Linked DNA regions of Homo sapiens: all the other regions are reported to be linked to region 1. Evidence: microRNA targets listed by miRTarBase, many of them from high-throughput screens and not tested one by one. Region 1 holds a microRNA gene; each other region holds the end of a gene's coding sequence. Distances are from middle to middle.

Region 1 (4,071 bases):
CATGAGGTCAGGAGATAGAGACAATCCTGGCTAACATGGTGAAGCCCTGTCTCTACTAAAAAACACAAAAAATTAGCCAGGCGTGGTGGCAAGCACCTGTAGTCCCAGCTACTCGGGAGGCTGAGGCAGGAAAATGGCATGAACCCAGGAGGCGGAGCTTGCAGTGAGCCAAGATTGCGCCACTGCACTCCAGCCTGGGTGACAGAGCAAGTCTCAAAAAAAACAAAAAGGTAGGTGGGTGGCCCAGTGCCTCCTTTATGGCTATGGCTGCATCAGCATTCGTATGTACTGTTCTCATTTGCTCCAGGTCACACATCCCGGGTCCTGAGTCTGACCATGAGCCCAGATGGGGCCACAGTGGCATCCGCAGCAGCAGATGAGACCCTGAGGCTATGGCGCTGTTTTGAGTTGGACCCTGCGCGGCGGCGGGAGCGGGAGAAGGCCAGTGCAGCCAAAAGCAGCCTCATCCACCAAGGCATCCGCTGAAGACCAACCCATCACCTCAGTTGTTTTTTATTTTTCTAATAAAGTCATGTCTCCCTTCATGTTTTTTTTTTAAATCTGTTTCAGCTAATGCCTTTCTTCTTTCATGACCTATGTCCCAGCAGCCTTCCTAGGGGCTCTACTCTACTGGGATCAGAGAGCTAGATATGTCCTGTGGGAGCCTGGACCATCCATCCCTCTTGTTTGTGGACAGGGCTAAGCGTGTTGTGTTCCCCCACCTCCTCTGTTCACATACGTATACACACAGCCTCCGTGGTTTCCTCTGTCACTTTTAATTAAGACACAAGTTGAGTAAGCAGCCTCCACAGGCTGTATTCCCAGGCCCCCGCCCACCCTGACCTTTGGCCCAGAAGCTACTGCTTCAGTGTGTGGGGTGGAGGAGTGAGACTGGGTCCACAGTGACATTATTGCTGACCTCTTCTGTGTGAGGAAAAAGGCCACGAGACCCTTTGTGGGGCCAGCCCTGAGTGCTCCTCTCCCAAGTTTTAAGGCAGGGAGGGGGAAATAACTGTACAGCCCTTTTAGCCCCCAGCTCTGGAGTGGCAGACAGCAATGAGGCCACATCCCTGGAGCTGCCCGGGGGAAGTGGGTGAGGAACCAAAGCCGTGGTCCCTGTAGAGCAGCTGTGGGGAGGGGAGGGCCAGTCCCCTGCTCAGTCCTGACCACATAAGCCTTGGTCACAGGTGTAGGTGGAGAGGGCACTGACGGACACTGCCCTAAGGTGCAGTCCTGAGGCACTTAGGTGGGCGCCTATCTAGGCCATGCTTCTCAGTTGGCCTTGACCTTGGCAATACCTGGAGCTCCATTTTGCTGAAGTGCACGGGGCAGCCGCTTGCCCTTGGTATAAGAGTGATACCAGAAGTTGGAGAACAGCATGAAGAAGATGGTGCCATACATCCAGATGAGGTGAATAATGACTGGGTACTGGTAGTTACAGCTGGACATAAAGTAGTACTGGGAGATGTGCAGTGAGACCAGGACAAACTGGATCTAGGATAGAGAAAGACCAGGGTCAGAGGGAATAGTGAGAGGACTAGAGGGGAAGAGGGGGTAGAGAAAGAGACAAACGTTGAGTAGGGAGAGATGGGGTCAAAGGTGAGACAGACTGGATAAAGGCAGGATCCAGGCTAGGAATGTGGGGGGATGGTTATAGGTAAGTCAGGCCAAGCCCCTCACCAGCTGAATGGCTGTCATGTGCTTTTTCCACCAAAGGTAGGGTTGTGCCACAGGGCCAAAGGCAGATAATCCGTAGTACAGGTACATTATGACATGCACGGAAGAGTTTATCATGGCATGGAAAGAGCCCATTCCTCCTGTGAGTGGACAATAAGACAGGGTCAGCAGAGTCCAGCCTCTGGTGCCCACCCTTTCCCATAGTGGCCTTCACCACTCACCCGGGGCAATCTTTACCCCCCACCACCAGCTCCAGGGAAGCACAGAGTGATGGAAGACATGTAGGAAGGTCACCTGCCCGTCTTTCTTTCGGAGAATAAAGATCACCTGAGAGAAGAGTGAGGGAAGGGGATTCAGAACCTGGGCTTCTCCACCTCATTCTCCCCTCAAGTTCTCACATCTCATATAACTACTCACTGTGTCCATCAGCTCAATGAACTTGGAGAAGAGGAAGAGCCAGGCCACCCGAACCATCTGCAAGAAGTTGGGATAGCCTTAGGACCTCATACACTATTCTAAGAGCCTCCCTAAACTGGGCCTTGAGCACAGGCCCCAAACTGGTCATATCTACCAGGTTGCTTATGACCTAGCCCCAGCCCCTACTTACCCTAAGTGCCTCAGGGCTGTTGGAATAGTCCACAGGGTCACAGCGCCAGGTATAGGTGCTCAGCCAGCCCGACATCAGGAACTGGGAAGGGATGTGGATTAGACCACCAGAGTTCTCCCTTCCCAGCCATCCCTCCCCTTCGCTAGCTGAGGACATGGATCTGAACCTCTCTGGAAAGGAGAAATGCCATGCTCTGGCTCTATGGCCTGCTCCTTATCCTGCTGACAGAAATTAAAGCCCGGCATCCCAGGGGCCCACCTCATAGACAATGTAGAGGGAGAGTGCCACCAGTGAGAAGTTGTAGACAATCATGAAGCCACGGAGCTGGAAGGGCTTCCGATTAGCCATGATGCGAGGCCCAAGTGAGAGAACGAAGTACACGTAGGTCAGGAGAATGGAGGTCATTAGCAAGGGGGACCCCATCAGAGGGTAGCCCTGGATCCGGGGATCTATGAATAAGGGTCAAAGGAATCAGGAAGAGTCACAGGGTTCGAAGGGTCTTCATTTGAAGGGTCTACAGACATGAGGTCAGGTCACAGGATCAAGGGTTTCATAGGAACTCTCCATTAGAAGACAGCCGTAGATCCAGGGATCCCGGGAAAGAAGGAAGGAAAGGGCTGGTGGATAGCGTCTTACCTGCGTGCTTCATCACCTCTTGGTACAAGTTCACAACAGCCTCCATCCTGGCTAAGGACTCTGGGGAGGTACAGAGGGCGGATGTCAGACAGATCCCACTGCACACCCCCATCCCACAGAGATAAGACACAGAACCAGACAAGACACCTGCAATGCCTCATTGCAGAAAGGACAGAACAGTGAAAGGAAGGAATTACTGGGAACTAGGGGGAGGAGGCAGTTTGGTTGAGGCATCTGCTCCCCACACATCCTGCTTGCCTGGGAAGAGCTGTTCCACCCTTCCTCTCCACACCTTACTCTCCTCTCCTCTCCACAGTTTTACTTCCTGGCCTCCCTTCCCCTCTTCCTCCACAAGATAACTCTCAATTCCAGGTCTCTTACTGGAGAATCTTACCTTCTCACCAACAGGGAGCTCTTGAACTCCGTCTCCCTTCCTCACCCGAGTCCCTCACCTCCCCAGCTCTGGGTCTTTCTTCTCTCCAGGGATTCTCCCCTTCAATCTCTCCTCTCCTGCCCTCTCCTCTTCCCATCCCTCTGGACCCTTCCTGAACTCTCTTCTCCCCAGGGTCCCTCCTGTCCCTGCCAGGACTCTCACCTCTCTGGGCCCTTCTGTCCCTCCAGAACCTTATCCTCGGATTCCTCCTTGCCTGTGCTGGGACACTTATGTCCCTACGATTCTCCTCTGCCTTTCCTGGGACTCTCACCTCCAGCCTCTCCTCTCCAGCGCTCTCCTCTCTCCTCTCGCAGAGCCCTTCCTCTCCTGGAGCCTGGCTCTTTGAGACTCCTGCCCCGGCGGCTCCACCTGTCTGACTAGATCTGGCAGCAGCCCCGCCCTCTGCCCGCCCCTGCTGTACTGTGCAGGGGGTGGAGGGTGGGTCCGGGCCACAGGTCAGTGCCTGGGGGAGCAGGACCCACCAGGATTGGGAAAGCCAAGTAAAGCCCCAGACTCGCCACCCACCCACCCACGTGGGACCAGCCTGATGAGCTAAGGTCCTAGATTCTGAGCCAGAAACCTCCTCTGACCCCAGCCCCAGCCCCAGCCCTGGCCCAAAGCACTGCTGAAAATCCACACCCAGCATCCTCTCCTAAGCCGGCCATAACTGCTCAGTTTGTCCTACTTCAGAATGGGTACAATCACTCTTCCCTTCCTG
Region 2 (4,075 bases), 160 Mb from region 1:
GGCAAAAGGACTGGCACTGAACTAAGTGAAAGGGCGTCTGGTCTATTCAGAGGAAGAGGCTGGAATGGCTTAACAATAGCAGGCATTTATAAGTGCCCACCCTCACCAATGCATCGGGGGTGGTCCCTAGATATGAAAGGTGAGGAAGTCTCTGCATACTGTGATGGTACCACGGGCTGCTTCAATTGTAAGGCAAAGGAAGCAGGAAAGAAAGGAAGGGATGCATTTAGAGGCTTTTCCACACAAGCGAGTGTGCCACGCCCCTCTGGGTTTTCAGCAGTGAGGTAACCATTCAGATTTAACCATGCCAACTCTCCTCTCTGAAGCTCAAGGGGAAGAAGAAACTCAAACCCTAAAGAACCCACAAGTGTCCAGAGGGATTTCTAGGTGATCTCTCTCTTAACCCCTTTAGGGACAGGAGAGTCATTCCAGAGGACAGATGATACTATGGGAAGGATCTAGCCTTAAGACTGTCACTCAGGGCTAGAACCAGCCATTGTTTTATCCATTTAGAATTCTGTCCCCATTTAATATATTGCACAAAATCTTTCTAGGGGAGGGAAGGCATCACAAATAAGATCCTTGCACAAAAACTCACTAATGGAAAACTCCAGGGGGAACAGGAAATAAAAACCATGAAAAATGCAAACCCCAAATCAGAGTATCCTTATAGACCAGGAGATATTCGTGTCTTTTATACCACTCTGCCAGCTATTCTTCAAGAAACACAAATCCAACAGAGGCCCCTGATCCTAATGACTAGTCAGGAAAGATTCTGTCTATCCATCTGCATGGTGGGGGTTGGGGGGAAGATTCATTTCCTGACAGCTGTGTCCCTTGCTGGGTGTTTTCCTGACTATCCACAGTTTACTACCCGTTTTTCTAGGTTTATTAAGAGAGGAAGCTAGGATGATACGTTCTCCTTCTCCCCATCAGACCCTTTTCAAATCCAAAGCACCATTTTGGGGAAAAGTGTTATTAACTTATGCCATATTTACCCACTGCCAGTTGGATCAGTGAAACTGAATAGAAAAAACTTATATAAAAAACATATGCACATAGACACTTAAACTTACCTAATTCCATATCAACAAAATTTATATTAAAAAAGTCTAGAACCCAACAATTTTTCTTCCCTAAGTATAAAGATGGCTGTTTGCAGAAAGAAAGTATGGTGTATTGGTTTTAAAACCAATTACAAATATACTAAGTCACCTGTCATGCCAAACAGCTGGTTATGTGCTCCCTTCCACAGGGCTACATGACGGCACTTTATTTTAAATCCTTTAAACAAAATACATATGGCTGACCCAAAAATATCAGTTTCTGATCTAAAGAAAACTATAATTTTTGCATATATTTCTATATTTTCTCTCCTATTATGGAAACTAGAACACAAGAAAAAAAACCATTGACTTTTAAAAAGTAGACACAAGCCCTCAAGGGTAACCTGTCAGGCACCATGAGAACCTTTTGTGAACAGGAATGGTAAAATAGCCTTCAAAGCTCGTTATTGGCTTGCTATTTAAAATGATCTGAGGTAATACAAGATTTGATAGAATTAAATCTTCTAAAATAGTTGATGAATATATATGTGAAACCTAACACCTTGGGTGAGCTGTTTTTTTCCCCTATGAGTATTTAAGACACAAAAAAGAATTATTGAAGCATGTACGTTTTACAAAACCAAAATCAAATTTGCTTTCCTATTTCCTACGATGATGGATTATGTAGTCATGGGGATATGTAGGGGACATTGTTTCTTTATGTTTCCTACTGTGGACAGCTCAGGTGAAAGGGGTGAGGGAGGACAGATCCAGAAGAAAAGGCTAGGTGGATCAGGTCATCTTCCTCTCACATGGGAATTTGGCCGTTCATACATCCCCTCTTCTTGACTCTCATCACTCTAGAAAGGGGGGTGGGCTTCATTTATCTAATGGGAGGTGAGAGTCAGGGACATGAACTGGCCCCTACACAGAAGTCAACACCAGCAGGGATACAAATGGAGCTCCTGCAAACGTGGCTCCACGTTGTCCCAGTAAGGAACACTTAAAAAATCTCCTAGCAAAGTCCCCAACTCCTGAGAGGCAGATGGGAAGGGGATGCTTTGGGCAGTATTCAGGGGAAAAAAAGGCACAGGGCTTTACTGGGCAGCAGCTGGAGCATGTGGCTGAAGCGGGGCTGGAGGAAGGGGGAGTGTGCCGGGTGCGGGGGGTCTTTTTCTCGTTTAAGTTGGCAAAATGTCACAGGGGCCTCCCACTTTGGATACATATTTTCAAAATCAGAATATTTGAGAAAGGCTGGGACCTTCTCAGAGACTGGAAAAGTTGTGACACGTGGCAAAAATTAGAATCAGAAACTGGAGAGAATGTCGAAGCTGGTCCCCAGGCACCTAAGCTCAAGGTTTCTGGCCTCTGCAGGAAGGTTTTCTCAGATCATGCTAGAATGGCTCTTTGGCCTCTCCCAAGGCTTCTGAACACTCATTCCCCACCAGTCAGGTCCTGCCCTGGAGAGCCTTGGCAGATGGCTTTGAAAGCAGTGGTCACCCCAAAGAGGAGCCCACAAAAGTCTGCTTTGATGGTCTGTCTTGTCCTAGATTTGGCAGCGTCTGGTCCTCAATATCCAAGCCCAGTAAGGGGGCAGGGTCATACCCAGTTCATTCTTTTGCCACCACTTTAGGAATAAGAGAAAGCTCAGGCTTTCAGGTAAAAACTGTATACCACACATATGCAACCTTCATGGGCAAGGCTGATCTCCCTGGCACTTAAGAACCACATACACTTTACAAGATGGCAATTTAAAAGCAGAAGGTAACCTGGCAACAACAGAGAAATATTCTTACCAGCACTTAATTGCTTCAAAAGGACCCTTTTAACAAAGAAACTGGTTGGATTCTGGAACTAAATCAAGGGTTCTTTTGGGCCAAAAGGGAGAAGGATCTAAGTTTACACAATTCATCCATATCCTTTCCATTTTCTTAATCATCATAAAAAAAAAAAAAAAAAAGGAAAGGAAGGGAAGACAAAAGACAAAGAACTTTGGAGAGGTTTGAATGAAAGGGCAGAAAGAGTTAGAGGCCTACAGGCCTTTAGGTGTAAGTTTTCAAAGTGGGAAAAATTGAAAAACAATCACACTACTGGCGGATTTTATACATTCCATCTCTACCGCAACATATTTCACTTGGGGATATTTGTCTCCCTCTGAACCCTCAACTTAGCTTATAAATGGCACAGACTTGTAGGACAAAATCCAGAATTCAGGAGAGGAACATCGGGGAGAATGTGGGGTGGGGTGATGCCAAGAGGATTGTCATCATTTCTTTAAAAATGACAAGTGACTACCAAGGAGTAGATTCTACCATGACCTGAATGGGGTTTGACTGGGTCCCGCTACAAACCCCAAGTCAAGCTTAAGTTGAAATCCTTGTAAGTCTGTGCTCTTGCCTCTTCATGGTCAGGTAGAGGTTCACTTCACACACACTGCTGTTAACACAGCAGCTGACGTGACAATGAAAAGTCCCATCATCACCTCATAGATGGGATAGACGAAAATGGAAATAGGTAAAATAGGGATGAGAGTCAGAGAAAGAAAATTCAAACTGATGTCTCTAGGCTCTGTAGAGAGCTGTCCGACTGGGGGAGCTGCACTTGGTTGCAATCCACCGCATTGTTGTTTGTATTGGCATATGGAGTGACCTCACCATCCAACAGGAGCACCCTAGTCCCAAACTTAGAAGCCTTGTCAGGATTTTCCTCCTCTTCCTCATCCAGGAGTGGTGTTCGTGGCAACTCCTCCTCTATGGCGAATTCAGGGTGGGTCATGAAGCTGTGGATGGACTTTTGGTTGTAGGGTTTCTGAATGCTTTCGTGGAGGGAACTATGGAACGCTTTGACCACTTTGATCTATACCAGGGGAAGGAAAAGGAGGATGAGAAAATAGAGAGGTGAGAATTGGCCGGCAGAACAAGGAGATGGTGGATTTAGGAGAGAAACAAAACCCAGACTATAAAACATGACTGCTCAGCATCAAAACCAAACACACATCAGAAGAGATCATGGGGCACTAGAAACATCAC
Region 3 (4,075 bases), not on the chromosome of region 1:
TGCAGCTATTGTCAGTAAAGCGCCTCTTATAAAGGTCATGCCTTTTGATTTGGGGGACAGAATAACTAGGCGTAGCACAAGAAGAGATGGCTCAGGTATCAGACTATCCTGGGTTTCCAGTCTTGGTCTGCTGTTCACTAGCTGGTAAGACCTTGAGTACACGACTAAACTTCTGTGAGACTCAGATGATAATGCCATATTCTATAGGTTTGCTGTGAGGATTAAATGAGATATGGCAGGAAAGCACCTTCCACAAGGCTTGGTGTATGCTAAGCGCTCAAAAAATGCTTATGATAAGGTTTAGCAAGATTTAACTTGGTGAATTCAGGTCTCCTTCCCTTTTGCACACCTAAGCACACCTGAGTAATTCACTCTAAGTATGAATGTAAATTTCCTCAGCAAAGGTTAACTAACCCTTAGGGTAGCTTTCCTTTGTCTCAGAACATATAGTTAACAAGGGACCACAGAGGTGATGATCTATTTGGTCTGTTTGAAGCCCCTTGTAGATGTAATTCTCCAATAGGTGTCATTCAGGTCTTTTCCAGAGGCCTCCGCAAGAGCAGGGGCTGGTAGAATAAGCTGCTGTTTGAGCTCTAACTTTTTGGGGGCACTTCTCTTTTCCACTTATAAAATAGTGAAAGATGCATACTCAAAATTGCTGTAACAATTAAATAAAATAATGAACAACTTAGCATAGTGCTTGGCACCAAGTAAACACTCAATCAGTGGAGATTTTTTTCCATTATATTTATTATTCTTAATTTTTATTGAATCAGGCCACACCATTGCAGGGAAATTCTGACTTAGAAAGCGCTTCATTACATTGGATCCAAATTTCCTTCTCCATGGCTTCAACCCATGGGTCTGAGACTTGCCCTCCGGGCTCTGCATAAGATAGTTCCGTTTCTCAAAACCAATGGCGACTGGGTTATTCTGACCACCTTCCTGCACCCATTGCCAGAATAATCCCTAGTTTCTCCAACCAGACTTCCTATGATCTTTGAAAGCTAAGTTCAGTTTCCCAAATTGAGATGCAAATTCAGTAAGAACCTAGCTCTTGGGTTTCCACTGAATTTCAAATGGAGTGAGCTGTTATCCAGCCTTGTAATTTGTAGATGGCAGGTGTTTTCACTCTCAGAAAATCTAACATGATTCACACTGACTTACAGAAGAGATCATTCATGGAGTGAATTCTCTTTATACAAGAATTCTTGCATACGCATACACAAATATATGTATACATACATATGCATTTCTTTGAAATATTAAATGTCTCTTTTGCTAAGGCACTTAATATAAAATTTTGACTGTTAAAATTCTATTTTCATGTAGCTTTGGAAGAAGAGAGCTTCGAATAAAAGTAGGAACACATGCACAGCTTCCTGTATTCATCAAGTATTTAATGAGCACCACTGTATACCTTGCACTGGACTAGGTTTTGGGGAGGTCACAGTAAGGAGGATGTATTCCCAGTCCTTTTCCCGTTTAGGAATCTCTCTGCACACTGCACAGAATTCCCTGTGAATAACTACACAACATTCAATATGCAGCATTGGGTAAACAGAATCATCTTTTAAATGTGTGATGAGAGCTGGTTCCGATGGGAAAGAGGGAATAAGCTACAGGGGATTCCTGGATTTTTGTGTGTCCCATGTATTTTGGATGCTTAAGCACCTAAATTATCAGAAAATCAGATATTCTCGTCTTTTGAAAAGGAGCTAGAAAGACTATAAGAGGGAAAAATGACATTAAAAAATCAAGCCATTTATTGCAATGTTTTCCTATTCTGACACATTTGGAAGCTCTAAAAACAGGGGGAAAATATGGGTTATAAAGACAGTCCAATTTCGATCTGAATCCTAACTTTCCCAGTCACCAACTGGGTGACTCTGGTTGAGTTTTCTCACCTCTATGAGCTTCCGTTTCACATTTGTAAGAACAGAAATAATAATGGGAACTTCTCAACATTGTCGTGAAGATTCAGTGAGCTAATACATGCAAAGCACTGAGAGCAATGTCTGGCACAGAAAAGGCCCTAAATAAAAGAATTCTAACAGTAAATATTATATTTTCCTAATACAATAAATAATAGCCTGATATTCATTAACAACAACCTTTTCCTTTTAGCTTCAACCTCTTCAGCTTTAAACCTTTATTAAGTCTATTTCTGTTTCTAAACAACCGGTAAACCTCCATCTTCCTACCAGAAAACTGGCCATTTGGTCAGCAGAACGAAAGGCTGTGAAATGAGTCTCTGCAATAGATGTGTCCTGAACACGGGGGCCCCTGGAGTCCCACAGCCTCCAGCTCTAGAGGTCACCCCAGGCTGCTACCAAGGGCACCCACTTCTTGGTTTGACCCACACCCCTACCTGAACCTGTCTTGGTCATTTCAGTGGGTCTGGCATGGTCTGCAGCTGGGTCTCTCAAGGCTCTGTAAGAGTAGAGGAGTGTTCCAGGGCACCACTCTCAGGGGCCAGACAGGCCAGTCCAGAGGCCTTACCAATTCCTATGAACCCCAAGCAGGACAAGGGAGAAGATTCAAGGAAGAGCCTGGCCAACTGCCCAAAGCCCTGCCAGTCAGCAGCTGATTCAGTGTGAGAGTCAATTGGTCCTTCTGAAACGGGCTGACCTTTCCCTGTCTCTGGAGTATTAACTGGGGGCTTTTCCCATCAACAGGAATGTTTATCAAATTTTATTTCTGACTGGGACAAACCTAATCTGTACCCTTCACAGTGTAGGGGTGAAGAGAAACTTAACCTCAACAATGCCCAGGTTAATGGATACAACTTTCCATTAAAAATCAAAATTAAGCAACTATTCAACTCACTTGGCAAATGTTTGATGACCTTGAGGTGCATACATATTTGGAATCAGGATAGTTTTGGTGCGCTGACGTCAGAATTACCCATTACAGTACCTCTTGGCAGGCTCCAAATAATAGATTATTCTATTGTTCCAAATTCCATCTATTCATCTGAATGGACCCAAAGAGTCTTGTGGTTTGGCATCTAAAGAAGAAATTAGTGATATTAAAAGTCTACCTGATTCCATTTCTTGGGATTTAGGCAAGATCCAGCAGGACTTCTAGTGACTTGGAAAGGCTGGATCAGGCTTGGGTGTAGTCCAGAACAGCTAGAGACAGGCATTTTTCTTTAGAGTAGATGCTGAATGATATCAAGGAGAAAACTCATAGCATGGGCCTGAGCAGCACCATCAGGCGTCATTTGAATGGTTAGAGACAGAAATGGAGGCCAAGGGTCCAGATCAGGGTAACTAAGGCTCATTGGTGAAAAGTTATTGGCCATAAGGGCTGACTGCTTCACAGGCATTGGGTTAGTCCCCAAGACCCAAGATTTGTGCCTGCCTAGTTGGCAATTTCTGAGAAGTCAGGGTAGGATTCCAAGTCAGCAAAGATGTCATTGGGATTCCTACAGCTCAGGTTACAGAAGCAGGCATTAATCCATAGGACCTGGCGGGAGAAGCCAAGCCCATCAGGACACTGGAAGGACACGTCGATAGTCTTAGACTTGTAGGGGATGCAGCACCTATTGTCCATGCAAACTCCACAGTACTTGGGTTGATAGGAGCGTGTGCTGATGCAGCCCGCAAGTGTGAAGTTCATGGATGCCTCTGGCTGGTACACAGCCAGACACTTCTTCCCTGCCTGAAGGAAAGGAAAGGAGCTTTCAGTGGGAGTGCTCAGAGAATGGACAACCACCTTCTTCCCCTGAGCCCCCAGTTTTTCCCTTCTCACTATGTGGGAGCATTCCACCTTACTTTCAGCTTCACAGCATCCTCAAGCAAGGAGGGACAACAGCAAACACAGTGAGATCCAGCATACCGCACAGGGGTAAATGGAGGACCACAGAGAAAAATGTTTTGTTTGGGTTGTATCTCACAGCCTGCAGTTTCTCTTTTGTCCTGCATTTTTGTCTTGCCTATGGCCAGTCATTCATCATGGTTTCACCAACATGGGGAGCCTATGTAGCTCCTTCATCCAAGCAAGTTCCCCTGGCTAGCTAGTGGCAGAACTGGCATCGGGACTCCACACTCAGGGGACACGCTTTGCCCTA
Region 4 (4,075 bases), not on the chromosome of region 1:
GCCGGGAAGCAGGGACCGTGATAGCCACCGTGAGCCCTGCCCTGGGGTGGGGCGGGGAGGGTACAGACCTCCCATGCACTCAGTGCACCCACTGGTTGCTGGGGTCCAGCCCTGAGGCCCAGTGCCAGGGTCAGCCTGGAGCTGTGGGAGGCCACGGGGGTGTCTGGTGGATCCAGACTTGGGTTTGTCTCTGGACTTAGTGGTTTTCAAAGCTGGGGCCCCTCCCCTTCCTCTTACTTTCTGACTTCTTTCTCCTTTCCTCTTTACTCCTCTCTCTCTCCTCTCCCCACCCCTGGGCTCTCCCATCTCCCCCTGGGGCTGACGAGGTCCCTGCCCAGCACCTCCGGTCAGCTGGCCCCCACGACACGATGTGCCAGAGCAGTGCCCGGGCCCGGCCCCCGCTGATGCACCACCCTGACCCCCGCCCGTCTCTCCCCCAGGGTGAACCAGCTGGCGATGCCGCCCGCATCTGTGAAAGTCTGAGGTGGTGAGTGCAGGCCGGGAGGCACGTGGGGGCTCCCTAAGGAAAGGGGAAGGCCAGGGTTAGGCAACAGGGAGCACTTTTCCTCCAGAGTCACCTCCTACCCCAGCACATCCCACCAACTCTGGGCTTTGTCTCTGAAGATGTTGCCAGAATTTACTGATGGAGCCATGGGTGGGACAGCAGGCTGCTCCTTCCAGTAAATTAGCTCCCCTTTCCTTCCTTTCAAGGGCTGGGTGGGGCCTCGCATAGATCAGGGCCAGGACTGGCCAGGAACTCCTCACTCTGTCCGGACTTCTGTTCTCCCAAATCCTCCTGGATGTACCAGGGCCTGACTCCTTGGCCCTTCCCTCTGGGAGTTATAGCTTCCCAGCAGCACGAGACCCAGGGTCACAGCTGCAGGTCCAGGAGAAGGCTTGCGTCTCCAAACAGCAAGAAAAGGGAAGGAGGGAGGGCAGCCTTGGCACAGGCCCCACTAAGCCCCACTGCTGACCTGACACCCCTTTCCCCAGGTGCCATTGGGACAATGAAGAACCCACACTCCCACCTCGTCTGGGAGGTGTCCTACAGCGTCCGGGACCGGCTGGGCTGCCCCAAAGCTTTCTGTGTGATCCACGGCTAGGCACCCACCCTCTCTGGCCCAGGCCTGCTGAGTGGCCCTGGCATCAAGAAGAGGCTGTGTCCTCAGTTACCCTGGAAGGATGTGTGTGTTGGAGCCACACGGTTGGACAGGTTCCCAGCCCTAGGTTTGGGCCGCAGGGCCCCTGGGGCCAAGGAAGAAGACAGCCCCAAGTGGGTGTCCGGGGAGAGCCTGGCCTGCCACCAGCTTATGTGATCTTGGGCAAGTCCCTGCCCTCCCTGGAACGAAGGGCCAGGGGGCTGGACTTTCCCACACAACTTGCTGGGCAAAGCACGATCTGCAGCTTTGAAGACTCAACAGACCCTGGACCATACGGAGAGCAGGTGGCCCAGGCCTCAGGGCGGCAGTCCCGGCTTTGAGGCTCACGCGAGGGCCTGGTATGCAGGGACCACTGCTCAGCTGGGCCTCGGACCTTGGGGATATTGGACGCAACCTGGCAAATGAAGCTGGGCGCCCAAGTCTCTGGGTACTCCCTGGAGGACACTGTCTCACTGTCTCGGGTTGGCTCCCAGCCTGGAGGTCCCAGATGGGGACTGTTCTGACAAGCTGGCATCACCAGGGGTGAAGGCCCTGGCTGCAGCTGTACACCACCTGTGCCCCCAGGCTCAAGGTCTCTGGCAGGTGCACACCAGCCCAACTCTGCAGGGCTTCTCTCCCTGCCACCACCCCCCAAGCCAGGACCCCACTCCTTCCCCGAGGCTGAGCTGAGCCTTTTCCAGGGGCAGGGCCCAGGAGACCATTCCCAGAATCCATGGGGCAGTAGCCAGGGCTCCGGCTGCTGGAGGAAGCAGCTATCCACAAAGCTTCCTGCCCCAGAGCTGAGGCTGAGGCCCCGGGAGAGGCGGCCCCTACCCAAACACTGGCTGCTGGCATTCCACCAAGTGACCCCAGGGGGGGGCCAGGCCTTCGATCACCCACCTCCCATCCATGCACACACCAGGATGCAGCTGCCAACTTCACACCAGCCCCAACCCGCTTTGGGGGAGCTTAGCCCCCTGCGTCACCCACTCCCTGCACTTCTGCTGCAATCAAGGTGGTTCTGGTGCGGGGGTGGGGTGGGGGGTGAGGCCTTGTGGCCAATGGGGGACCCCCCAAGAGCCAGCTTGGACAATGCTCTTCTTGCCCCTTAGTTACTGGCTGGCTGTGGCTTCAGTGGTGTGTAAGCAGGTGGAATACTCACCCACCAAGCTCTGGGGTACCCCGAGGGCCTGACAAGAGGATGGGGTGGGGGTGGCATCCTCCAAAGACCAGCCTCCACCCCCACTCCAGCCTCAGCGGGGCCCCAGCGATGTTTTCTTGTTGTACAAGAACCAGGTCCGAGTGTTGCCTCCTCTTCCTTCCGGAAGCCAAACTGCTCCTTTATTTTTTAGAGCTGCTGATTGTGAATCTCAGAGTCTTAAGAGAGAAGCCAAATATATTCCTCTTGTAAATGAAGAAATAAACCTATTTAAATCACCCCCTGGTGGCTCCCTCACAGCAAAAAAGCCTGGGGGCAAAGAGGTGGCAGGCACGAGAGATGGTCACACCTGCCTGCAGCCAGCACATCAACCTGCACCAACCCAGGCAAACACCAGAGCCCTGGACATGGCCCTGGAGCCAGGGTCCCAGCCCAGAACCGGGGGTGGGGAGGTCTCTGCACCCTGGGACCCCTGCAGGAATGGCTCAGGCTGTGCTTGCCAGAGCAGGATGCCCGGGCAGGCGGCAACAGCCACCCTCCCCAGTGGCAGCGCCTTAGAAACAGCTTGCGTATTAAAATCATGGTTTAAAAAAAAAAAAAAAAAATAGGCGTCTCAGGCAGATGGAGGCAGGGGCTGAGGGGGGCCCGTACCTGTGCTCAGGGCTTCCCTGCCTTCCTCACCTGTGCTTTCTTCTTGGCCCCACTCTGAAGCAGGCTGGGACTCCTGATGACCAAAGACAGCCTTGCCTTTTTCCGTGCCAGCGCGGACAGTGGTGATTTGCCCAAGACCCCCTTTTTGGGAAGAGCCTTCTGATGCTGCTTTTGGCCTGCAGGTTCCGTGGGGGACCCGGGAGCTCCATTCACCTGGGACGGCTTCTGGTTTTTCTTCTGCAGTTTTGGGGATTTGGCAGGGGTGCTGGGGCTCCGGGTGGGGGCGCCAGGGGCTGGACTCTTGGTGGTTGGCGTCCCGTTTGCCTGGGCTGGGACCTTAGCCTTTGTCCTGTTCCTCTTCTTCCTGCCCATGCTGGGGGGCTGGCTCCCGCCGGTGGCTGCAGGTGTGCCATCCTCCGCTGGCGTGCCATCCTCTGACTTGCGTTTCTTGCGCTTCTTCGTCTCTGGCAAGAATCCCTTTTTCTTCCGCTTCTTACTGATGGGGCTCTGGGTGGCACTGGGGATCTCCTTGGCATCCTTCTTCTCCAACTTGGGGCGCCTGAAGGGAAGTGAGCAAGGTTAGAAGGTGCCCATCGAGGGCAGCAGCCACCGCCACCGCGACTGCTACCTCCACCTGGATTCTGAGGGTCCTCTGAGGCCCCTAGGTTCTGTGAGGCCCCTATGAGGGTCCCGTGAGGGTCCTATGAGGGTCCTGCGAGGCCCCTGGGTCCTGCGAGGGTCCTGCGAGGCTCCTGCGAGGGTCCTGTGAGGGTCCTACAGCTCCCACATCTGAGAATGCGCTTGAGTGCATGTGTGTGCAGCAGCATGCGTGTGCAGTGTGCGTGTGCAGCAGCGTGTGTGCAGCGTGTGTGTGTGTGCAGCAGCGTGAGGGTGTTCCCAGCCCCTACCCAAGGTGTGTGTCCCCCTCCCAGAACCTACTGGACTCCCAGGGTTTTCATGGCCTGCCAGTAGAGGTCGTGCAGGCGGCTGGAGCCGGTGGAGTGTGCCCCCTGCTGTAGGCTCTGCTGTTGCCCCTGCAGCACACCCAGGAGCACCGTCAGGTCCAAGGTCAGCTTCTGCAGAGGGTGGGAAGGCAGAGCTGTGGGGCCACAGAGGGCGGGGCCTC
Region 5 (4,000 bases), not on the chromosome of region 1:
AGAAGTGGGATACAAGAAATTACTAGCATTTATTTCAGTGCATTTATGTAGAAGCCTTTCATCTAAATAAATAAAATAATCTTAAGTACACTTCCTCTTTCTGATAAACAATACTATAACCATTTTAGTTCTCTCAACCGGCATACTTGCAAATACAAGACAATAAATCTACAACAGTATGTATTTGAAAAACACATAAAGAAATATATCAAAGACAAGCAAAGGCCAAATAAAATGACAAAATCTGCTTTCACTTGTAGGAAGCCTCCAGAAAGAGAATATTGTATTGGACATTTTTCCATTTTGTTTTAAAATATCAGTATCTTGGCTGGCAAAAGGGTATATAAGGAAATTTTTAATACATAACTGTATCTACTTAATATTATAAAGTTTTCTTACTGAATAACTTTTCACAAAAACAAAAACTTAAATGTAGATTTAAAAAATACTCATAAAACCCTAGTTTTAGCAAAGAATTAACTATCTCCACTGTGAATTATATATAGTTCCAGCAAATGTGTACTCTTCTCCTTTTCTTCTCTACAGACAGGCCCATTAGTCATTACTTCTTTCTGTAGTTGAAAAGCACCATGTAATTTTCCCAGTTAGTGCCATAGGGACCTCCTATTAGCCCTAGGTCCACATATACGGGTTTCTTGACTTTGAGACTAGGAAATACAACAGATAAGTTATCAGAAGATGTCTTCATAATTTCAGAAAGATCTCAATTTGCTTGACTTCATTTGTTTAGAAATGAAGTAATAATACTCCTTCCATAGACATACCTAGCATTGCACTGGATATGGAATAGGCAATCAATACATGCTCATTAATAAATCCTCCAAACATCCTATAATTTGCATTTGCAATGTATTTGTTAATCTTTATGTAATAATTAATACAATGAAGATAAACGGGCACAGCTCTGTCACTCTCACAGAAACATATTAAGTTCACTGTTTATAGGCAAAAATAATTTTAGGTCTACACTAAAAAAGCAAAACAAACAAACAAAAAGCAAACGAGGTGGTTTTCACAGGATGACAAACTATATTTCAAAACTGAAAAAAAGCAAAATGTTTATATCTCACTCCTGAAACAAAAATTAACATCAGACTTAAGAAAATAAGGCAGATACTAGTAGTACTAAGTTTTCTTGAAACTGTAAAATATATATAAAAATGAAAAGATACCGAATGTGGACAGCTCCACATTGATCAACAAATGTTAACATTCTCAATCTCTTTCATTGACTTTAAAAACTATGTAATAGAAACAGAAAATGAACTAATACACAAATGAAGTACAAATATCATAATTTTCAGAAGGTTTGATTTTTCGAGTACCATAAAAAAACTGAAATATAAATATTTTGGAAATAGTTCTAAGAAATAAATATGAAAATATTTTGTTTGGTATCATAACACAGAAGCTATCCATTTTCTCAAAGTGTAAGGATTCAATTATTTTATGATTTAGTTTGTGGTCATTTGTGTTATCAATATTGCCATAAAAATGACACTTCAAAATAAAACTTACAATCTGAGATAAATAACCATAGTTCTGTTTTAGGTAAACAATCCTTGAGGCAAATATTATCCAAACGTTTCTCATATATAGATTTCTATTGCTCATCATTGTTGTTGAACATTCACTTTATAGATATTTAATTTTTTGTTTAAAATTTGTGAAAATATCAAGATATTTTAAACAATCTTTATAATTGCTAATTTTCAAAAAAGAATACTGTTCGGCTTTACTGTGGAAAAATTCATCCAAAATTAAGATATGTACTTGATATCAGGTAGTAAGACCTTTTTTCAGAGAACAGTCATATGAAGATAACTGGACAAAGCCCTGACACTCATGCAAACATGTAAGATATTACATATAGAAGACATTATGGCATCAGTGCACCAAATAACTCATCACGTATTTTAAGACAATGCTATTAAATTATGCTTTTAGATACTACATATAGAAGACATTATAATATCAGCGCACTGAATACTGATCATGTATTTTAAGATAATTCTATTAAATTATACTTTTAGAAAGAAAATTTTAGTAATTAACACCAGAGATATAATCTCTTAAAAGTGAAAAAAACAAAATATAGTTTGAATGAAACTAACATTCAAGGGTCCCCTCCAAAAGTGAAATTCTATGTCTGAAAACTAAACTTAAAATTTGTTTTTATCTACTAAGTATTTATCTTTATAAAAATAGAATATTTAATTCTTATCTAATAGTATAATTCATTTGTATATTATAAGTACTATTGGGTTTTCTTCCATAGATCATTCTTTTAAAAAAACTGACTTGATTTCTTTTTAAATGAAGATACTTTTTTTTGGCTCTTCTGAACTGGAAATAATAAAAGTGCTGTTCACCGTGAATTTAAAAAAAATACACAGTATAAACACACAACCTTGGAAACATTTTTTGAGGCACAAAATCCCTGACACACCAGAGGTACATGGAAAGACATTTAACATAAAGAGATCCTTTATATCATGTCACATCACAACTTTTAAGATTTTTCTTGGTAATACTCATGCAATATGCATAAACAATATGGTTGTGATTTCTAGCAAAATCAGATGAGATTGCAAGCAAGGAAAAACATAGGTAATCCCGGTAGGAAGAAAAGCTATTTAAGTCCTTCCTTCTTTTCCTTTAAAGCCTAAGAAAGCTGTGACTTCTTCCACACAAAAGGCTGAGGTCTAAAGCTCAAAACTAGTATAACAGTTTACTGTATTAGTTGGCTGTCAATTATTGACAGTTCCTTCATTTCACACAAGGGTTAACCTTTGTTTAGTGATGTAAATTTAGTGAGTTTTTTTCATGCAAATAAAAAATGTCTATAAAAGTCCAATAAAGGTATAACCGATTACATGCAAAACTGCAACACATCTAATTTTTAAACAATTTGCACACATTAATTTATATCACATATATACAAAATATGTTTAAACGGAAATAAAAGCATTCTCTTGAATTAAATTATAGATTTTAGTATAAAAATTTTCTCTTCGGAGGGAGCTCTCTTAACTTCCGATCTTAAGTAGTGGCTTCCCGTTTCTGCGGTGCTCGCCACAGGGGTGTGTCTCAGAGCAGGGAGGACGGGTGAGAGAAGGGTGACTGTATATAGTCCCACTCTGTAAACACTGTGGACTGCTGGCTCTTCTCAGAGAAAAGGGCACTGTGACACAGCCAATCACTGACCTCCACTAAGAGCGCGCTCCAAGTTTATGATCCAGCATTGTGGTCTACCTTGCCACGACAGCCACTTCTTTTAATAGTCTTCGATTGGAGCTAACTCTGGCATGAGGTTTACAGATATGTTTGTATACAACCTATCAACCAGTATTTTTGGCCTATATATTAAATTGTTCAGTCCATCGATGTACTGACGCTCCTTGGAATACCTTAGTAATTTATACCTATAGTTTTAGAGGAAAAAACAAAAAAGCAACAAAACATGTTCAAAAAGGAAAACTGATAAGGACTGTGTTCAAGGTCATCTTATAATTAAAGCACTTAATGCCCTTTACAATTTCTGGTTCTTGTGCATAATTTAAGAATCTCTAAACCATTATTCTAAATTAGCAATTTTACTACTCAAGAAATGCCACCTGAAAAAATTATTTTGCACTTTTACAATTAGACATCTTTAATAAATAAAACATTATGCTTTATGTTACGTAAATACTTTTACATAAATAGTTAACCGGGCTCTTTAACGTAAATATGTGTATTTATTAATGTATATATACGTATATCTCTTAAAAACAAGCATCAAAAATGCTTCCTTTTGTAAAGATTCCCTTCAGCAAAAAATACTTCCCTTCCATTATGAAAATTCCCTTCAGCAGCTTTTTTGGGGTTCAATGCATTTTTATTTACCTTTCATTTATTCAACAGCTTTGGAAACCTTGGTATCTGAAGATGACATTCAACTTACCGTCCTAAAAACTGGACTTCACCTCTATGGTGA
Region 6 (4,075 bases), 2.7 Mb from region 1:
GATGATTCTTCCCTGAAGGATCAAGTTCCCCTTGTCAAACCAAGACTTGGCTCCATTTACTGGAGCCTTTTTCATACCAAAAACCCATTGCAGGGAAAAGGAGTCTATGAAGAAAGTGGGACAGAATGAACAGAGCAGAAATACAAAGACAGACGCTCTGAGTCATCCATCACTGTCCCTGCCCACAACCCAACATCACTGCAGGGCCACTCCTGTCTCTGCCATATGCACAGTGAACCTCGCCTGACCAGAGGAGGTGGAATGACAAAGAGCTCCATTCCTGTAACCACTGCAGGGTTTCATCTGGGCAAGGGGGCATTTGGAGCCGGGACACTGAACATGGCAGTGAGTTGGCCCCAGGGTGGGAGACTTCTGGAGGGATCATGTTCCTTCCTTCCCCACCCCCCGTCCTCAAACAGCAGATGCTCCCCCACCCCAGCAAACAACCAGGAGTTACACTTGTGCATTCTCCTCTTCTGGGACAGGCTAGGTCCAGAGTGGCTTTTCAGACAAGCCCCTGCATCCATGATGCTGAGAAACAGACCCTTAAGTGCAGCCACACTGCATCACACAGACGTGTCAGCCTCACACAACTTTACCCTCATGGGGTAAAATCCAGGTGGGGATGAGTAACTTATTTGGTGCAAAGGGTTAAAAGAATAATTCCCCAAGGTCAATTTGGGGAGGAAATTACCTTCTTTTAGAGAGGTGGAATAGTGGAGTGGCCCAACTGCTGAGCAGTTTTGGCAGCCAGGGACTGTAGGTAGGTCAGCCCAAGTTACCAGCACATCAGACCCCTCCTCCAGCTAGAACCTCCCCTGTGCTAACCCTTCCCCAGAGGCAAGGGTCACCACGGCCTGGAACCCCCAGTGGCAGGCCTCTCTGCAGGCAGCTCCCCACCAGAGGAATGAGGGTATGGGTAGCCCCCACTTCCTGGGGTGACTGCTGGTCTGGGTATCACCACTCAGTGCTACATCCACAAACATCTATACTGTCCTGTGGGTCACTAACAACCCTATCATCCCAAAGGTGTAGAGTATTTTCGCAACACCCTGACAGTGACTGCTCTAGAGGTGAATATATCATAAACAGGAGATTAAAATACCCTTTTGCAACGGAGTTTCCTTCTTGATCCCCCACTAGGGTCGAGGAGGACAGAGCCCTTTGTCCATTTCCAAGAACTTGACGAACGCAATGGGCCTGGGGAGAGCATTTCCGCCTAAAGAGAAAATTCAGCCCAGTGGCCTCCTCCCCATCTCTATGCACCCAATGGTCCCTTTCTCTGATAATATAAGAATAGAGGCTCAGGCAGAGATAGGAGCCTGGGAGCTAACTCCGTTCATTTCCTTCCTGCCCTTACCCACTTCTTGTCCTGTGGGCAGGCCAGGTGGGGTTCTGGCTTCTTCCCCTATCTTTCTTGGGAGGTGTTATAAGACTCTGGCTTCAACGTAACACAGAACCATGCCAGCCAAGGAGGCCCTTTGGGCTGAGATGACCTATCCATAAGGCGCCACTGCCTCCATGCCCCTACAACTTTGGTTATGAATGGAGGCCCCAAGTCATTCAGACCCCAAGACCTTTCTACTGCTACCCCAGGTAGCGTACCCCTGCCTCAGGTGCTGGGGCCACAGCCATTTCAGCACCTGGGGATAATGCCTGGAGAGAGGTGGAAAGAGTGCCTTCCACACACCTCCACTGTCCTGCTGCTTTCTCCCCTACCAGATACAAACCCAAGGGCTGCTCTGTCCATGTCCTGTGCAACCTCTCGCCTTTCACCCTAGAGCTGAGGAGGGACAGGGACAGGTCTGGGCATTCCTGAGTCAGACTTCAGGATTCCCACGGGACAGATTTCACAGGGTCCAGTTCAGGCACTGGTCTCCACCAACAGGGCCCAGTTGTCAAATCAAGTCAGGGTTTGAGTGGCTGTGAGAAGCTCCAACCAGACATGGGTGAGAAAGCAAGCAGAGGCAGGTGGGTGCCTGGAGCAGATGGCTCTGCAGAGGGCAGCAGTGGGGCACAGGAAAGCAGGGAAGCCCGGAGGGGTAAGTATTGCTTAGACAGAGCTGGTGATGGTGGCAGACGAGAGTCCGGAGCCAGGCTGCTGGAGCCCAGCTAAGTCTGAGCTCCCAGACAGGGACCCTGGTCTGGAAATGCACAAAAACTGGAGCCCCAAATGAACAACTTCATGCAGTGAATCCCCAAATGTCAGATGGGATCCTCAACAGTGGCGGGGAACAACTCAGCCTCAGCCCTCCTTATTCCAGCAAACAGCCCTACCCACAGAACCTCCTTACCGAGTCATGCCCACCAGGAATGAGCCCTGAGGGGGTCAGGGCCACCCTCAGGGCCTCAGGAGGACTGTTTGCTTTAGCAGATAACATGCCCTCTGTGGCTGCCTGCCCAGGCCCACTGGCAGAGCTCCTTCGGCACGGTGGAGTGGGGAGGCTTGAAGAGACAGGAGATGAAGAACAAATGCTAAGGGGGCACCTGGCCAGGAACCCTGGAACCAAGACCTCGTGCTTCACTGGAAGAAGGAGGAGGTTCCAGCCTCATAGAGAAAGTCATTTCTAAGCCCTCAGTCCCCTGGGTACCCTCTGCCTCCCCAGGGCCCTGGCCAGGGAGCTAGGTGGGCATGCTACATGCTGCAGAACGCATTCAGTGGCAGGAAGAGCTGCCGGAGCGGCTCCAGTGGGGTGGGGTTCCCAGAGGGCCCTCAGTGTGGCCAGCTGCAGCGGATGCTACATTTCTCAGAAAACAGTGGCAGAGCCGGGAGAGTCAAGAGTGGAACAAAAGACAAGACAGAAAACAAAGCAGAGACCACCAGGAGCAGGCACAGGTGAAGAACACACAGGCTCTGCCCCAGGCCAGGACCAGGCAGCACCGACCAGTGGCCGCATGCCCCACCTCCATCCCTGGAGACTCCTCAGGGTGAGTCATGTCCACACAACACTCCTTTGGGTTTCTTTTCAACAAGACACAAAGAGACGTGGAGACATTTCAGCCCATATCATCACCAGGAGTGACTATACCCAGACAAATGAACAGATAGAACGTGGTCACGTACACACACACACACACGCACGCACACACGCACACACTACAGTCTCCACTGCCAGCTGGGATGAGCCCAGTAGCCAACAGGCATGCAGCAGGACAAGGGGTCCAGAAAGACACGAAGACTATGTACAGGGGAGGACATGGGGCCAGCAGGCACCCCTCCCCACACCACCATCCTGGCCTCTTCCTGACATCCTTAAGAGCATGAGGGGCTGGTGGCACTCTCCAGGGAAGACTGGGACAGGCGCCTGGTGAGGGATCCGAGTGTGGAGTCTGCCACTGAGGAGGTGGGGAAGAGTTTGTACCAGCCGGTGACCGCGGCGCTGAGGTCCAGCTCGTCCAGCATGATCTGGGCCATGCCCATGAAGCACTTGTGGTCCATGCGGCCATAGTCTCCCCAGACGATCACCTGCCAGGAGGAAGAGAGGGAGGGAGTGAGCCACCTCCCTGACTCCAGGACTGTGCAGCAGGCCTAGGAACCTACACGTTTCAGCAGGGCACAGATGGAGCAGAGGGAGCCAGAACTCAAGACTGATTTCACACAATAATTTACTGAGCACTTGAGGTGTGTTAGATACGATCCTATGGATTTTACCTAGATTCTTTCTTTCAATTGTTATAACAAGCCATGTAGGTAGGGGTGCTCTGTATCATTATTTCCATGAAGGAAACTGTAGCTCAGAAAGGTTAATTAGCTAACCTAAAGTTGCACAGTAACTTGTGGCAGAGCTTGGATTAGGACCTGGGTGTGTGACTCCAGAGCCTCCCAGCATTTCAGATAACAGCCTTCCCCAGGAAGGGGCAAACTGAGAGTTCAGGACTTGGCCATAGCTCTAGCTGTGCTGCTGGCTTGCCGTGGGACTTGTGTAAGCTCCATGCCCTCACTGGACCTCAGTGTTTCCAGCCACACCACTGGGAGATTTTTTGAGATGGAGTCTCACTCTGTTGCCCAGGCTGGAGTGCAGTGGCGCAATCTCAGCTCACTGCAAGCTCTACCTCCTGGGTTCATGCCATTCTC
Region 7 (4,075 bases), not on the chromosome of region 1:
TGGTGCACCTGGTGGAGCGAGTGCAGAGGTGAGGGCGGCCGTGCCATAGGGTCGGGGAGAGCACCCCCACCAAGAAGCTGGACGTGGGGTGAGGTCCAGTGCTCACTCGTGGGTGTGGCTGCATTTGGCACTACATGGGCTCGCTTCACTCTGGGAAGGCGCGGCGTGGCATCCTCTTCCTTGTTTGGACCCAGCTCACAGGGCCATGGAGACTTTGGGGCTGGAGAGAGTGGGCAGGGCCTTTCCAGTCTAAGGGTCTGAGGCAGTGTCTCAGGGTCCCGGCCTCAGTGGCCACATGGCTGTCCTCAGCTGGCCTCTGCCCCTCCACCTGGTGGCTCCCGGGAGCTACTCTGACACGCTGGTGGCAAAACGTCAGAGCTGCCCCTGTGCTGACTCGAGTCCTTAGCAAAGAGACAGGGCAGGACAGATGCTGGGCCCTCCACCGCCCAACGGACTTAGGGTCCAACCGCCATGCCGCCGGCAGATGCGCCAAGTCCTGGTCCACACACAGGGACCCCTTCCCGGCGCCCCTGGGCAGCAGCTCTGGGGGTGGGGTCTGGGCCAGTCATTGCTGCTCCTGAGACCCTGTGCATTGGGGACACCTTCAGACCCACGTGGTGCGGTGGCTTGTCAGGGCTGCCACCGCAGACTGCACACCCAAGAGGCCGTCAGGAGCCTGGGCACAGAGGTGCACGCACGCAGCAGTGGGCTCTTCTCTCTGCAGGTTTTCACACAACAGAAACCACCTGACATCCACCCGCTGAAGCGCACTGCTGTTCAGATAGGGGACGGAAGGTCGTTTGTTTTTGTTCTGAGCTCCATAAGAACTGTGCTGACTTGGAAGGTGCCCTGTGCTATGTCGTGCCTGCAGGGACACGTCGGATCCCGTGGGCCTCACATGCCAGGTCACCAGGTCACCGTCTCCTTCCACCCCTGCAGTGTGCTGTTGTGCACGTCAGGGACGCTGTTCTCTATGCCCACTGCCCTCCTCCCTCTCCTGGCCCAGCAGTATTGCTCACGGGGGCTCCAGCCGCCGGCGTGGCCCTCATGAGCTACGCCTGGGTCTTCTGCAGACTCATGCAGCCCTATGGCCGCTCAGACCAAGGCGCAGAGCAACTATCAGGGCAGCTCTGCCTCCTCCTCCCATGAGGTGGGGAGAGGCAACAGGGCAGCCCCCAGAGGAGTGTCCTGGCCGCTGTCCTCCCGGGGCCCATGATGGCCATAGATTTGCCTTGTGGTGTTGGATCAGGTACTGTGTCTGCTCATAAGTACTTGTGTCATCCAGAATGTTTTGTTTTTTAAGAAAATTGAATTACTTGTTTCCTGAAATATTCTGAGGTTAATATGTTAGTTTTCATAGAACATTGAGAGGCCCCTGCCACTTTCAATAAAGACCTGACTTGGAGACATGCAGGTGTGTGTGGTGGGGCCCGGGCCATGCGGGGCTGCAGCGTCCCTGGTCCCGAGTCCTCATCACAGCACGCAGAGACGGCAGCCCAGCCCCCCTTCGAAACTTCCCTGTGACGGATTCCTGGGCTCTGCTTGGCCCACCGGAAGAACAGAGCAGGCAGAGGAGAATGCAGGTGGGGAGATGCTGTTTGTTTATTTTTAATCAAATGTGTGTGAACAAAGCAGTCGCCCATCTACTTCCCGTTGGAAGGAATGCTGGGCAGTAATAAATTAGACGGCCCCACCCTCCCAGGGCACAGGGGGACTTTGGTTTCTGCTTCTCTAGAGGTACATGGGGAACAAGCGTGGCTTCTGCCAGACTTGTTTAGCTGTGACCTGCAGGGCAGGCCCCTGGGGCTGCCACTTGGTTCACCAGATGGAAGGTCAGCATGGCTGTGCCACGCTTGTCTGAGAGGGTCCTGGCAGTGGGTACGCAGGGTGTATGGCAGGGCCTCTTTTCCAGTGCTTGCTCTAGGCCAGTCCTCGGCAGGGACCCTGCTCTGGGGAGAGAGGCAGGGTGTGCCCAGGCTTTGGTCCGATGCCGAGAGCACTGCTCAGGCCTTGTCTGCGTCTTTGAGCCAGGGGCCTGGGAGCTGTGGCTTGAGCGGCTCCGCGCTCAAGACTCGCACATTTTTCCCAGGGCCCCAGATAGCTGCTGGCATGCACTAGGTCCTGGGTGGGGGGATGAAGCCCCTCCCAGATGTTACATGAGGCCCACCCACACTGCTGGTGCCAGTGGGGATCCAGTGAGACCACAGCCACTTCCCATCTGTTGAGAAGCCTCAGGACAGAGGTCACCTCTGTGTCCTGCTGTTCTTTGTAGTTGTGTCCAAACCTGGGCAGGTTGAGCGTCATTCCTCCTTCCCCCTGACCATCCCCTCCAGCCCTGAGGAGGGTTGGGGGCCATCCTGCACGATGCTTGGGGCCCTCCCGGCTGAGCTGCTGGCCCCCTGGATCACCTCCATCCACCTGGAGGAGAGGGCGGCCATCAGACCAGTGAGCCATCTTGTGCTCAGACACTGTCCCAAGAACAACCCAGGATATGGGACAAGCAGGACAAAAGAAGGGTTAAAAACCTGGGGCCGGGTGCGGTGGCTCATGCCTATAATCCCAGCACTTTGGGAGGCTGAGGCAGATGGATCACTTGAGGTCAGGAGTTCGAGACCAGCCTGGCCAACATGGTGAAACCCTGTCTCTACTAAAAATACAAAAATTAGCCAGGCGGCGTGGCGTGCATGCCTGTAATCTCAGTTACTCAGGAGGCTGAGGCAGAAGAATCGCTTGAACCCTGGAGGTGCAGGTTATAGTGAGCCAAGATTGTATCACTGCACTCCAGCCTGAGTGACAGAGGGAGACGCCATCTCCAAAAAAAAAAAAAACAAAGCATTGCTGTTTTTTGGAAATGCTGGAAGCATTGCTCAGCCCTTCCTTTCCAGGGCCCAGAAAACTTGCCTCCACCACCATGAGTAGAAATGGGAGCTGAGCGGACATCGAAATGGGCAGCTGACCAGGGCTGCCTCCTGCAAAATTACCTTTCAAATGTGTACTTGCTCTCAGCCCGGAAGAAGTAGACGTGGGATTTGAACTGGAGCTTGAAAACATAGTCTTTGTGTATGCCATCGGCCTCCCTGGGGATGCTCACGCTGTAGCCCAGCAGCGGGAGGCTGGCCAGTGGGTAGTCATCCTGCAAGACAGCATAGGGACACGGGTTCCAGGGGCTGGGTTGCCACAGGGAATGCCCATTCCTCTGCTACCTGCACAACGGTGGCACGTACAAATGCCCACGGGCCAAGGGAGCCAGTTTCCCTGTTCACACAGCACAGGGTGTGTGGGCAAAGCATGGGAGGGCAGAACCAAAATACAAAAGGGACACAGGTGAGCAGGGTTAAGTGTCTGTCTGCTAGCATCACCTGCATTGGGCTCCAGTGAAACTCCAGTACCTGATGAGTTTTGTAGAAGAACAAACAGAAGTTGGTAAAGACGACCCAGAGCTTCTGCCAGCCATGACTGTTTTTGAACTTTCTTAGCAGATATCCTGAAAGCTGGTTCTGTCAATAAAGGAAAAATGCAGGTGCATTAACCAGCACCCAGGACCCCTTGTGGGAGTGGGTTTGCTCCCCAAGACTAAGCCTCTGCATGCTTTCTCCAGCTGAGGCCTTGGTTTTACCTCTGGACTGCTATGAACAGCAGCTTTATCAGTACTTAAGTCCAACAGAAGCATGTTAAAAACCTAGAGTGACATTCCAGGCACCAAGTAAAGTGAGTTCCCTTTCCCTGTGCACAATAAAGTCAGTGTTCAGTAACCAACCATCCACAAACCCATCCAACAGCCAGAAGAGAGAAGATACCTTAAGAGACAGTACATTGAGCCAAGTCTGGAAGGTTCTTTAAAATGATGGGTGGGGGAGAGGCAAGTAAAGGCACACACAAGATGCCCCACTGCAGCCCTGTCCCTAAGCATGTGGCATCTGTTCTGCCAGGATTAGGCATGGCTTTGGCGCTGGAGTGGCTGGGCTCATGGGGCTCACATGAGCCTCCCGCCTTCAGGGTGGTATTCAGGGGTTGCACTCTAAGATGGCGGAGCGGGCCTAGCTAGGACCCTGCTTAGATCTCAGGTGTCCTGGAC

What was found. The annotated mature microRNA hsa-miR-6734-3p reads CCCUUCCCUCACUCUUCUCUCAG and lies in region 1 at 2,005-2,027, opposite strand. An mRNA with a match to its seed (bases 2 to 7 or 8) in the 3' UTR can be bound and repressed. Matches are read on the target gene's strand: a 7mer-m8 pairs with bases 2 to 8, a 7mer-A1 pairs with bases 2 to 7 and ends in A, and an 8mer does both.
Region 2: miRTarBase lists ATP2B4 as a target of hsa-miR-6734-3p. The part of its 3' UTR that is shown has no 7-base or 8-base seed match.
Region 3: the mRNA of CCN4 is a reported target of hsa-miR-6734-3p. Seed matches in the 3' UTR shown: 8mer at 332-339.
Region 4: miRTarBase lists SPNS2 as a target of hsa-miR-6734-3p. Seed matches in the 3' UTR shown: 7mer-A1 at 1,177-1,183.
Region 5: miRTarBase lists B4GALT6 as a target of hsa-miR-6734-3p. Seed matches in the 3' UTR shown: 7mer-A1 at 2,663-2,669 and 7mer-A1 at 769-775.
Region 6: miRTarBase lists RIMS3 as a target of hsa-miR-6734-3p. Seed matches in the 3' UTR shown: 7mer-A1 at 1,345-1,351, 7mer-m8 at 829-835, 8mer at 392-399 and 7mer-A1 at 388-394.
Region 7: the mRNA of STK25 is a reported target of hsa-miR-6734-3p. Seed matches in the 3' UTR shown: 7mer-A1 at 1,656-1,662.

What each region holds. Positions count from the first base shown.
Region 1 is chr1:43,362,644-43,366,714 of GRCh38, forward strand. It overlaps MIR6734 (microRNA 6734), which reads right to left and starts at 2,072; the gene lies at 2,005-2,072. CDC20 (cell division cycle 20) reads left to right here. Exons shown (of 11, transcript NM_001255.3): 11 at 308-560. The coding sequence ends at 486. ELOVL1 (ELOVL fatty acid elongase 1) reads right to left here. Exons shown (of 8, transcript NM_022821.4): 2 at 2,921-2,980; 3 at 2,543-2,733; 4 at 2,285-2,365; 5 at 2,095-2,151; 6 at 1,899-2,004; 7 at 1,681-1,817; 8 at 758-1,494. The coding sequence starts at 2,966. The coding sequence ends at 1,273. RefSeq lists a silencer at 3,668-3,757.
Region 2 is chr1:203,739,373-203,743,447 of GRCh38, reverse strand. ATP2B4 (ATPase plasma membrane Ca2+ transporting 4) reads right to left here. Exons shown (of 21, transcript NM_001684.5): 21 at 1-3,902. The coding sequence ends at 3,594. All of the region lies in intron 1 of LOC102723543 (a long non-coding RNA gene), which reads left to right. Among named protein-coding and RNA genes, the nearest start is that of LINC00260, 11 kb to the right of the region's middle.
Region 3 is chr8:133,227,002-133,231,076 of GRCh38, reverse strand. CCN4 (cellular communication network factor 4) reads right to left here. Exons shown (of 5, transcript NM_003882.4): 5 at 1-3,666. The coding sequence ends at 3,367. Among named protein-coding and RNA genes, the nearest start is that of CCN4, 38 kb to the right of the region's middle.
Region 4 is chr17:4,536,460-4,540,534 of GRCh38, forward strand. It overlaps SPNS2 (SPNS lysolipid transporter 2, sphingosine-1-phosphate), which reads left to right. Exons shown (of 13, transcript NM_001124758.3): 12 at 441-487; 13 at 994-2,576. The coding sequence ends at 483. MYBBP1A (MYB binding protein 1a) reads right to left here. Exons shown (of 26, transcript NM_014520.4): 25 at 3,889-4,025; 26 at 2,445-3,508. The coding sequence ends at 2,956. Among named protein-coding and RNA genes, the nearest start is that of MYBBP1A, 17 kb to the right of the region's middle.
Region 5 is chr18:31,622,316-31,626,315 of GRCh38, forward strand. It overlaps B4GALT6 (beta-1,4-galactosyltransferase 6), which reads right to left. Exons shown (of 9, transcript NM_004775.5): 8 at 3,968-4,000; 9 at 1-3,446. The coding sequence ends at 3,299. Among named protein-coding and RNA genes, the nearest start is that of TTR, 32 kb to the left of the region's middle.
Region 6 is chr1:40,623,264-40,627,338 of GRCh38, forward strand. RIMS3 (regulating synaptic membrane exocytosis 3) reads right to left here. Exons shown (of 8, transcript NM_014747.3): 8 at 1-3,466. The coding sequence ends at 3,254. Among named protein-coding and RNA genes, the nearest start is that of RIMS3, 40 kb to the right of the region's middle.
Region 7 is chr2:241,492,351-241,496,425 of GRCh38, reverse strand. STK25 (serine/threonine kinase 25) reads left to right here. Exons shown (of 12, transcript NM_001271977.2): 11 at 1-28; 12 at 725-3,756. The coding sequence ends at 764. FARP2 (FERM, ARH/RhoGEF and pleckstrin domain protein 2) reads right to left here. Exons shown (of 27, transcript NM_014808.4): 25 at 3,390-3,497; 26 at 2,982-3,133; 27 at 1,585-2,418. The coding sequence ends at 2,301. Among named protein-coding and RNA genes, the nearest start is that of STK25, 14 kb to the left of the region's middle.